Linked DNA regions of Homo sapiens: region 1 is reported to be linked to region 2. The links are microRNA targets in miRTarBase. Many come from high-throughput screens and were not tested one by one. Region 2 holds a microRNA gene; the other region holds the end of a gene's coding sequence.
Evidence for each region. Region 2 holds the annotated microRNA hsa-miR-708-3p (CAACUAGACUGUGAGCUUCUAG, at 2,955-2,976, opposite strand). A microRNA usually pairs through its seed, bases 2 to 8, with sites in the 3' UTR of a target mRNA and lowers its output. Matches are read on the target gene's strand: a 7mer-m8 pairs with bases 2 to 8, a 7mer-A1 pairs with bases 2 to 7 and ends in A, and an 8mer does both.

Region 1 (4,402 bases), not on the chromosome of region 2:
CTCATCTGACTAACTTATATTTGAATTTAACAAGGTAACAAGATCTATAAAAATAACTATCAGCACTCCCCAATGCTCAGTCTGTAGGTATTGGCATCCTTTGAACTATTTATCAATAGACTACAAAATAATCTCTACTTTCACATTATTTAGAATTTTCAGACCTGGGTGTATAAAATTCACAGTACATTTTTCAAGATTTAAAATATGAGAAGATACATAAACATTAATAATGTACTCACTATAATGCTATGTGTCCCAATAGGCCCCGATCTCATTTGCTCCTCTCAACAACTCTGTGAATTAGGTATGATTCTCATTTCACCAATGATGAGACTATCAAGTAACTTGTAAGTGAAAGTCTGCCTGACTCAAAAATATATTTTAAAAAAATTACTTTATATAGTAGCTTAATGTAAGGAGTAATAAGTGAAAATTGGCTATTGGGCATGTTAGCAAACATAGTGTTTAAACATAAAAACAGTTAACCTATGTTGCAGCCTCTCTGATGAATACTCGGCCTTGTAACTTGGCTTCTTTAAATGGTTTAAACCTTTTTTTCATGAGTGTTTATTGCTTCTATTAGACTGTGATTTCACTGCAGGCAGAAAAGGGACTAAATTTTCTACCCTTTCGAACACTAATAGACTGCTGAACACTATTTTGTAAATGTGGGTACTTAACAGACCTTTTTTTAGTAAATCTGAAAACCAAAATGACTCTTAATAAGGTTCAGAGTATAAAAAATAGTTCTCACTTAAAATAACATACACCAAAAGAATATAAAAATATTGATTTATTACCAACAAAGCAGGATTTCCCAGTTTTTTCAATTACACACACACAAGCACACACAATAGCAGAATGAAATTACATTTTTCACATCTAAAGGTTTATACCTCAAAGAAAATAGGCATGTGTCCAAAAGACAATTAGAAAGCAAGAAATCTTTCCTTTTACTTTGAATATGGAAAATCTTTTAACAGAGACTCTTTCCAGGCAAACCAATGAAGATTTAGGCATAGAAAATGCTTGTCACCTTAAGGTTTTTAAATATAACTGTATTCACCAAATCAAGTTTTTACTAGAAGTTTTTACGATTTTTATGTAATTAAAAATCAACTTTTGGCCGGGTGCAGGGGCTCACGCCTATAATCCCAGCACTTTGGGAGGCCGAGGCGGGTGGATCACAAGGTCAGGAGTTCGAGACCAGCCTGGCCAATATGCTGAAACCCCATCTCTACTAAAAGTATAAAAAATTAGCTGGGTGTGGTGGGACGCGCCTGTTGTCCCAGTTACTTGGGAGGCTGAGGCAGGAGAATCGCTTGAACCCGGGAGGCGGAGGTTGCAGTAAGCCGAGATCACGCCACTGCACTCCAGCCTGGGCAACAGAGTGAGACTCCATCTCAAAAAAACAAACAAACAAACAAACAAAAAAACTTTTGTTTTAAGTGGCTGAGACTATGTGCTAGACTTACTACTGTTTAATATGCTAAAATGATACATAATTTATTCTTCACAGCTCAAAATTCAATGTAAAGCCAAATATTAATTTTGTCCAGTAGAGAAATTAAATGTTTACAAACAAAGTATGGAACAGTTGTTGGCCTATGTAAATTGAAATGTAATTGACCATTTTATTTTCAAACATGCTTAATCTTCACGTGTCTTTTTCACATTGATACTCATTTTGCAGAAATAAGATGACTGGTACTAATTTAGACAATAAACAAACTACACCAAGCACATTTTAGTAAAGATATTTTGGTGGAACGCAAAGTAATTAACGATGAAAACATTTGGTAATATCCATTTACTAATATGTTACCAAGTTCTTCAATGTTTACATGACTTGCTCATATTAGTAAAAATGTCATTTTAAAATATTTTCACACTTCATGCACTGGAGTTAGTTTAAGAAGGGAAGGCTCTTTTAAAATGTTTATAAAGAAGAAAATACCTTTTTAAAGAGAAAATGTCTAAGTGAGAGGACATAAACTTATGGCTCATTATTTTTTGACCTAGTTAAGAATATAAATTTCAATGGCTACTTAAGAATATACAAAACCCAAACTGAAAGCAATTCTTCAATTTATTCAGGCAAGCAAGTCAAAAAAATAATTTTGTCATTACTGGCACAGATCCAATCCACTGTTCAAAGACATGACTTTGGACTGTCTATTTTCCTATAAGATTTATTTTTTAAAAGAAGATAATTTGTTTGGTTCTACTAATTAGTATAACTTAGAGATAAACAAATGATTTTCCCATTTAATTCTTTTGCGGTGAAAGAAAACAGTTTAAACTAGATTTTCTAAGATAATGGGTACATCAACATTGTAAGAAAGGCCCTATAGGCTTAAGTTCTAAAAACATTACGGTTTTAAAGAAATCAATGCTTTTCCATCACTCTTTACATAACACTGAGAAATTTCAAATATAAATTGTAGAAACCAGTATATGAAATTTTAAGAAAAATCTTACTAAAAATAATTATAAAATGCTTTTAGAAATGTAAGATGTAAAATATAATTGACTTTAAATAAAATAAAAAAAAGCAACCCCTGCCCCCACACTTTAAAAGGTTATTCTTTAAAAACCCTTGTCACCTAATTTTATTCTCAGTCAATCTTTTGGTTGTATTTTGCATCATCTAGTGGCCACCTTGCAGCATTTCAAAGCAGTTCTGCTACCATTTTTGAACCCCAGTGCTTTTTTCCCCTTGAAATACCAATAAAATTATAGCATCAAGTTTCATAAAACTTTCTTTTAAAGGCCCATAAAATTCCATTTCCTACTGGAGATAAGGTAATCTTTTTTAATAGGAAGAAATGACTAGATCTGTCATAAATTATTACTATACATTAGACATTTTCATATCAATTTTTTAAAATTAAATATAACATTGGGAGAAACTAGGACTTAGGCTCTAGAGTCATCTTTAGGCTCTAAAAGTAATTAAAGTTACTCTGCAATTAAAGCTCAGGGCTACCATATAAGTAACTTCTTGTGATTAACCCTTCTTCCACTGTACCTTTGATTTGTAATATTAAGTACATTTTAACATGAGAACTGAATGACTCATGGTCAGAGTGCCAAGAACTCAAGTTCAACCAAGACTGAAGAAGACTTAACTTTTACTACCAGCTGCTATTTTGGAAAGGTCATTATAGTTTCCATTATCAACCTATTTGTATTTAAAAGCAGGTTTCCAAAAATAACTGCTTTTCGTTTTAGTGAATCTCCTTTTATTCAGTTGAGCCATACTTATAAACAGAATTTAACAAAAAAAATTCCCAAGTTCCCTCTCTTTACTTTTATTAAGAAGGTTGAGTGAATGTAATACGGCGCCGCCGCCTTTGGAAAGCCTTTAAATTCCATGTGTTTGGTTCCAGCATATGAGGGCCATTGTAGACAAACAAAACTGTCATCTTTTCAGAATAAGGAAGATTTTGCAGGAGCTGTAAGTATTAAAACAAATTGTCATATAAGCTATATACTGAGAAGTATAGTTTTCCAACCTTACATGTGTACAGTCAAATGTATTATTTTATTTGCAATATTAATAAAACTTTTTTTTTCCCACTCTGCTGCTCAGGCCGGAGTACAGAGGTGCGATCTCAGCTCAGTGCAACCTCCACCACCCAGATTCAAGAGATTCTCGTGCCTCAGCCAGCCTCCAGAGTAGCTGGGATTACAGGCATGCACCATCAGGCCCAGCTAACTTTTTGTATTTTTAGTACAGACAGGGTTTCACCATGTTGGCCAGGCTGGTCTCGAACTCCTGACCTCAGGTGATCTGCCCGCCTTGGCTTCCCAAAGTGCTGAGATTACAGGTGTGAGCCACTGTCCCCAGCCAATAAGACTCTTAAGAAGCTCTTAAACACCTCAATATAAACCTTGCCAGACTGTAATCCTTACCTAAATTAGCATACCTGTAGCCTGGCCTAAGGAACAATCAAAATAAGGAATAATCCAGCCCTCTAGATTCACAGGATAACTGGGATTATTCAACTTCCTTGGCAGACCTTGGAAAAGAGTATGTCCTCCACAATTTTCCTAGGGTAGATACTTTCACTTTTTATTTATAAACACTTCTCAAGCAACTTCTTTGATAGCCTGGTATCCTGAAAAGTGTGTAACAGGGACATTTGTAGACTAAGGTATTTGGCAAGCAGTAGGGTATTAACAGATGTGACTATTCCACAAGACTATCTACTGAAAAAAAGAAGACAGATGACACTATTTAATAAAAATTTGAATGTAGGATGGGCAAAAACAATTTTTTTTTTTTTTTTGGAACAAGGTCTCATTCTGTCACCCAGGCTGCAGTGCAGTGGTGTGATCTGGGCTCACTGAAACCTCCACCTCCCAGACTCAAGCGATCCTCATGCCTCAGCTT
Region 2 (4,402 bases):
CTGTAACTACCCTGTATCATGACTTTCCATAGGCAGAAACATAAAGACAGCCCCAGATCTCACCCACCCAAATGATTCCCAGCATTTTTTGTGCCATTTCTCACTCTGATTAGCGAGCAATTTCCTGAAGGCAAGCCAGTCCACCAGGCACAGAATATGAGTTCCAACTCTTTCAATGAGCAGAAATCTACTGGTTCCATATTCTTCTCTGGGGAAGGAGAATCAGCTGAAATGAGTAGTTGTTTCCCATATTTACATGGGTATTTTCTTCTTATTTGAAATGCTTATGGACAAGGACTAATCTGTTAGGAAGGCAGAGAAAGATTGTGGTCCCTGCTACCATAGCCAAGGAAGAAGAACTGGGGAGTGGGAGAGCAATAAGTTTTTATCAGAAAAATTTAAAACTGATTGTTTGGAATTTGAGAGGAGACCCTAAAATTAGAGAGGAACTTGGAGGCGATCTTGTCCAAGATGCTACTCAAAGCAAGGCTCCCTTATAATACAGCCTGGCTAATTAACAGGCATCGAGTCTTGCTTGAATACATTTGTTTATTAATTTGATAACTTGATGGATCTTAGTTCTGGTGGAAACACATACATTCACATCAAAAAAAAAGAGAGAAACAGAAACATGTGGAATCTTGGAAACAGACGTAGAGTCAAATTTGGCTCCTCTACTTACACAGATTGAATTACTATGACCTTAGGCAAGATATTCAAACCCTCTGAGTTCCTTCTCTGTAAAGAATGGGTTATAAAACCTTCCTTGTCGGTGTTGTTGTGCGGATTAAGTGGAATCATGTATATAAAGTGCCCAGCAGAGTTGGCTGGCACACAACCAACACTCAATAAATGGTAATTATTATTATCTCTTTAGCCCAAACTCCCACCCAAGGCAGAAATCCTTCTTTAAACAACCCTGACAAACCAGAGAGCTATCAAGTCTCTGCTAGAATAAATATTTGTTGATTGATTTGGTAATCAGTTGATTCTAAATACCTGGGAGACACATAAACACACACCACACACACACACACACACACACACACACACACACACACACACACACCCTCCAGGATTATTTCTCCAAGTCTTGTGTGAGGGAGATGCTTTATCAACAAGACCATATCCCCATATCCATCCTGTTGGGTGATATTCAATGGTTAAATTTGCAGCCTGGAGCCAGAATCCAGTCACTGCAACTTTCTGCTCCATGGTCCGCTTCCTTAACCATTTTTTTTTTTTTTAACCACACAGACTCCTTTGAAGACCTTCCCAGACAATGCACATACCTGGAACAAATTGCCTACAACTTCAGGAGTGTCACAGACTTTGTGAAGGGCTTTGTGCCTTCGGGGCTAAACTCCTCTATGCTGGCACATCCCCAAACAAGGCTCTGAAATTGCAAACACTGCTCCTTTCTCCTGACAGGCATCTCTCTTGCCCTCTCCTCCCTGTGCTCTTCCTGGAACTTCAGAAGAGGGATGCAGTGCTGGACTTAAGCTCTGCAATCAGTGCAAATTCCAGTTTCCCCATCTAATGCATCTTTAAGCCTCAGTTTCCTTGCTTACAAAATGGCAATTGTAATAGTGCCTGTGTCACAGAGCTGCTGTGAGGGCTGAGGGGACAGTGCGTGTTGATGCATAGCACAGTGCCTGCACAGAGGAAACACACAATTGAAGTTTGCAATTGTCACTTCTATTCTTATGTTATCTGTTCCCTTGCTCTCCTCCTCCCACAGACATTGCAGTTTGCCATCGTTCCACTTTAAAAGAAGCTCCAGAAGGTACACTCAGCTCCAGAGAACTGGAGATAGCCCTGCATGCCATGACCTAGGTGTCAGGCAGGGGGCACTCTGCCCAAGTCAGACTTGGGACAGCAGGTGGCATATGCCAGACTTGGCCCTGAGAAGCTCTGATTGGGATTTATAAGGCCTATGATTACTAAAAAACAGAAAAATTCAAACTACCGAGTGAAAAATCAGTGGTACAGTAGATTCAAAAGCTTAATAAACAAAGGATCTTGGGGACAGGAAATAATACAAGGGATCCATGGAGGTATAACATTTGAGAATTCTGGTGTCCTTCACCTTTTTGTTTTCCTGCCTCCTTCCCTCCCTCTCTTCCTTTAAAGAACAAGCATGTATTGAGCAGTTATGTATGCAAGCCTTGTGCTAGGCACTGGAAATGAGAGATGAATAACCATGATTCCTGCCCTCTCGGAGCTCACAGACTAATGGAAGAGCCGATTTACAGAAAGAACACAGTGCAACAAGTTCCCCAACAGGGTAAGCACACGTGCTGAGGCTGTCTAACCCCGGAGCCTCAGACTCTTTGAGATGCAAAGGAATAAACAATAATTCCCAGAAAAGGTGACACTCAAATGGAGACCTGTCAATCATTTTTATTAGGCATTTTTGCTGGTTACAAAAGTAATAAATACTTTTTGCAGGAGATTTGGAAAGCACAAGGGTGTCAGAAAAAGAAAACGTCAATCATTATTTTACCATTAGAGGCAACCACTAATACATTCTGAAGCATTTCTCTTTCCATCTATGTACTTAACATCAATGAGTTCATCATGTCTATACATTTGATAGGCTCCCCAGTTTACTTAACATTGAAACATAAGCACTTTTCCATCAAGCTCAGTCCAAATGAGTGACCCCTGGATCTTTGATCTGGGGGACCAAGTCCAGGAGCCTGGAAGCCAGGGCTGGCCCAGAGGAGATATGACAAGCTGGGTTTTGGTGAGCAGGTTGAGTTGGCAGTGCTGTGGAGCATTCCACCCGGGGAGGAACACTGAAGATGCTGGAGAGCTGGGTGTGGCACTCAGGAGACAATTCAGGCCTAGAGGGTCCTCAGGTGGTGGTTGACGCCATGGGGATGGATGAGATCCCTCAGGGAGGGTGTGCAGGGTGAGAAGAGAGATGACTAGGGTAAGGTCCCTGCCCTCTAGAAGCTCACAGTCTAGTTGTGTTCATGTGCAAGTCATTTACCCCCAGCTAGATTGTAAGCTCCTTGAGGGCAGTTACCATTTCACACACAGCAGTCCCTCGCCAACCATGGGGGTTAGGTTTCTGAAAACCCCTGGGGCAGGAGAAGTCAGGCTTCAGGAATTTAGGACCTTATTGGGGAAAAAATAGGGTTAGGGGAATGAAGTCACCAGTGAACTTGTAAAATTATTATATTTTTACATAATGAGAAATGACAATGACAACATATTCAAAACACTGAATATCAGTGACACAAATTATCAACATATTCTTCAATTAACAACATTTTACAACTTATTTTCATGTACCATCTATCCCTTTAGTAGAGCTTGCCCCTTCACAGCTACAACAATATGCTTGTAAATTCACTTTTGCATTGCTGGAAAAAATACACTTGCTAAGAGTCCTTTTCTTATGTGTGGTTTCCCATCCAATTATTCAATGCATTTTGGTTTTTATAACTCCAGGCTACTGACACCTGTCTCTTGGTCCCACCCACAAGTGCAAGCACACACCTACATCCTAACAGGTAGGAGTGTGTTTCTGAGGTCTGATCCACCCCCTCCCACTCTCCTCTCTTCCCCAATTTTACTACAAACACCTCTCCTCTGCAGCCATTTCACCTACTTCCCTCTTCCCCAACCTCTGGGCAGATTTCATCAGTTCCCCCATAGGAATGAGCAAAGACTCCTGACCTTGGGATTCTCCAAGGCTTCTGACAAAGTATGCAAACATGAAGTTGTCAATATTAGAATTTGGTGTCTTTCTTTGGTAGACACTAGCATATCATTCACTCACTAGCTCATAGTAGGTACTCAATAAATTCTTGTTGAACTGAGCAATTTCCAAAGTAAAGGATGTGGACTTTTTTTTCTCTTTCCCCATTCACTGCTCCAAATGAATATTAAACCTTCACACAACATAAATATTGAAATATTTGTAGGCACATTTTATTTTCCCTTCTGGCAGGTCATGATGACAAGAGGCAGCTAATAGATGCAATCTATCTGCATTCACGAAGGCAGTTTTGAGTTCCACATGACATGCTGTCAATAGAGTCAAAAGATATGGCCCTTTAGTGAAGGAATTCTCCATATTTTCCAGCTCAGACCACTTGGATAAAGGAAAACACCTACTAACCAACGATTCTCCCATGCACATTTATGACAAAAAGGTTGTCGCCATGACTAAATGGGAGGACTAGCACTGTTTTTCATGAGATATCAACAAAACCATGTCTTTTAAATGAAACAATAATCAGTTACATTTATACAGCACTTTACATTTTACAAATGCTTTCAGGTACATTTTTATCTCACTTTTTCTTCACAGCAACTCTGCGAGGTAGTCAGAGAAGGCACTGATAGTTCCATTTTGCAGATGAAGAAACTGAGGCTTACTCTAAGG

Region 1: miRTarBase lists SMC5 as a target of hsa-miR-708-3p. Seed matches in the 3' UTR shown: 7mer-m8 at 2,304-2,310.

The regions. Positions count from the first base shown.
Region 1 is chr9:70,351,250-70,355,651 of GRCh38, reverse strand. It overlaps SMC5 (structural maintenance of chromosomes 5), which reads right to left. Exons shown (of 25, transcript NM_015110.4): 25 at 779-3,461. The coding sequence ends at 3,321. Among named protein-coding and RNA genes, the nearest start is that of KLF9-DT, 61 kb to the left of the region's middle.
Region 2 is chr11:79,399,078-79,403,479 of GRCh38, forward strand. MIR708 (microRNA 708) reads right to left here and starts at 3,032; the gene lies at 2,945-3,032. All of the region lies in intron 1 of TENM4 (teneurin transmembrane protein 4), which reads right to left.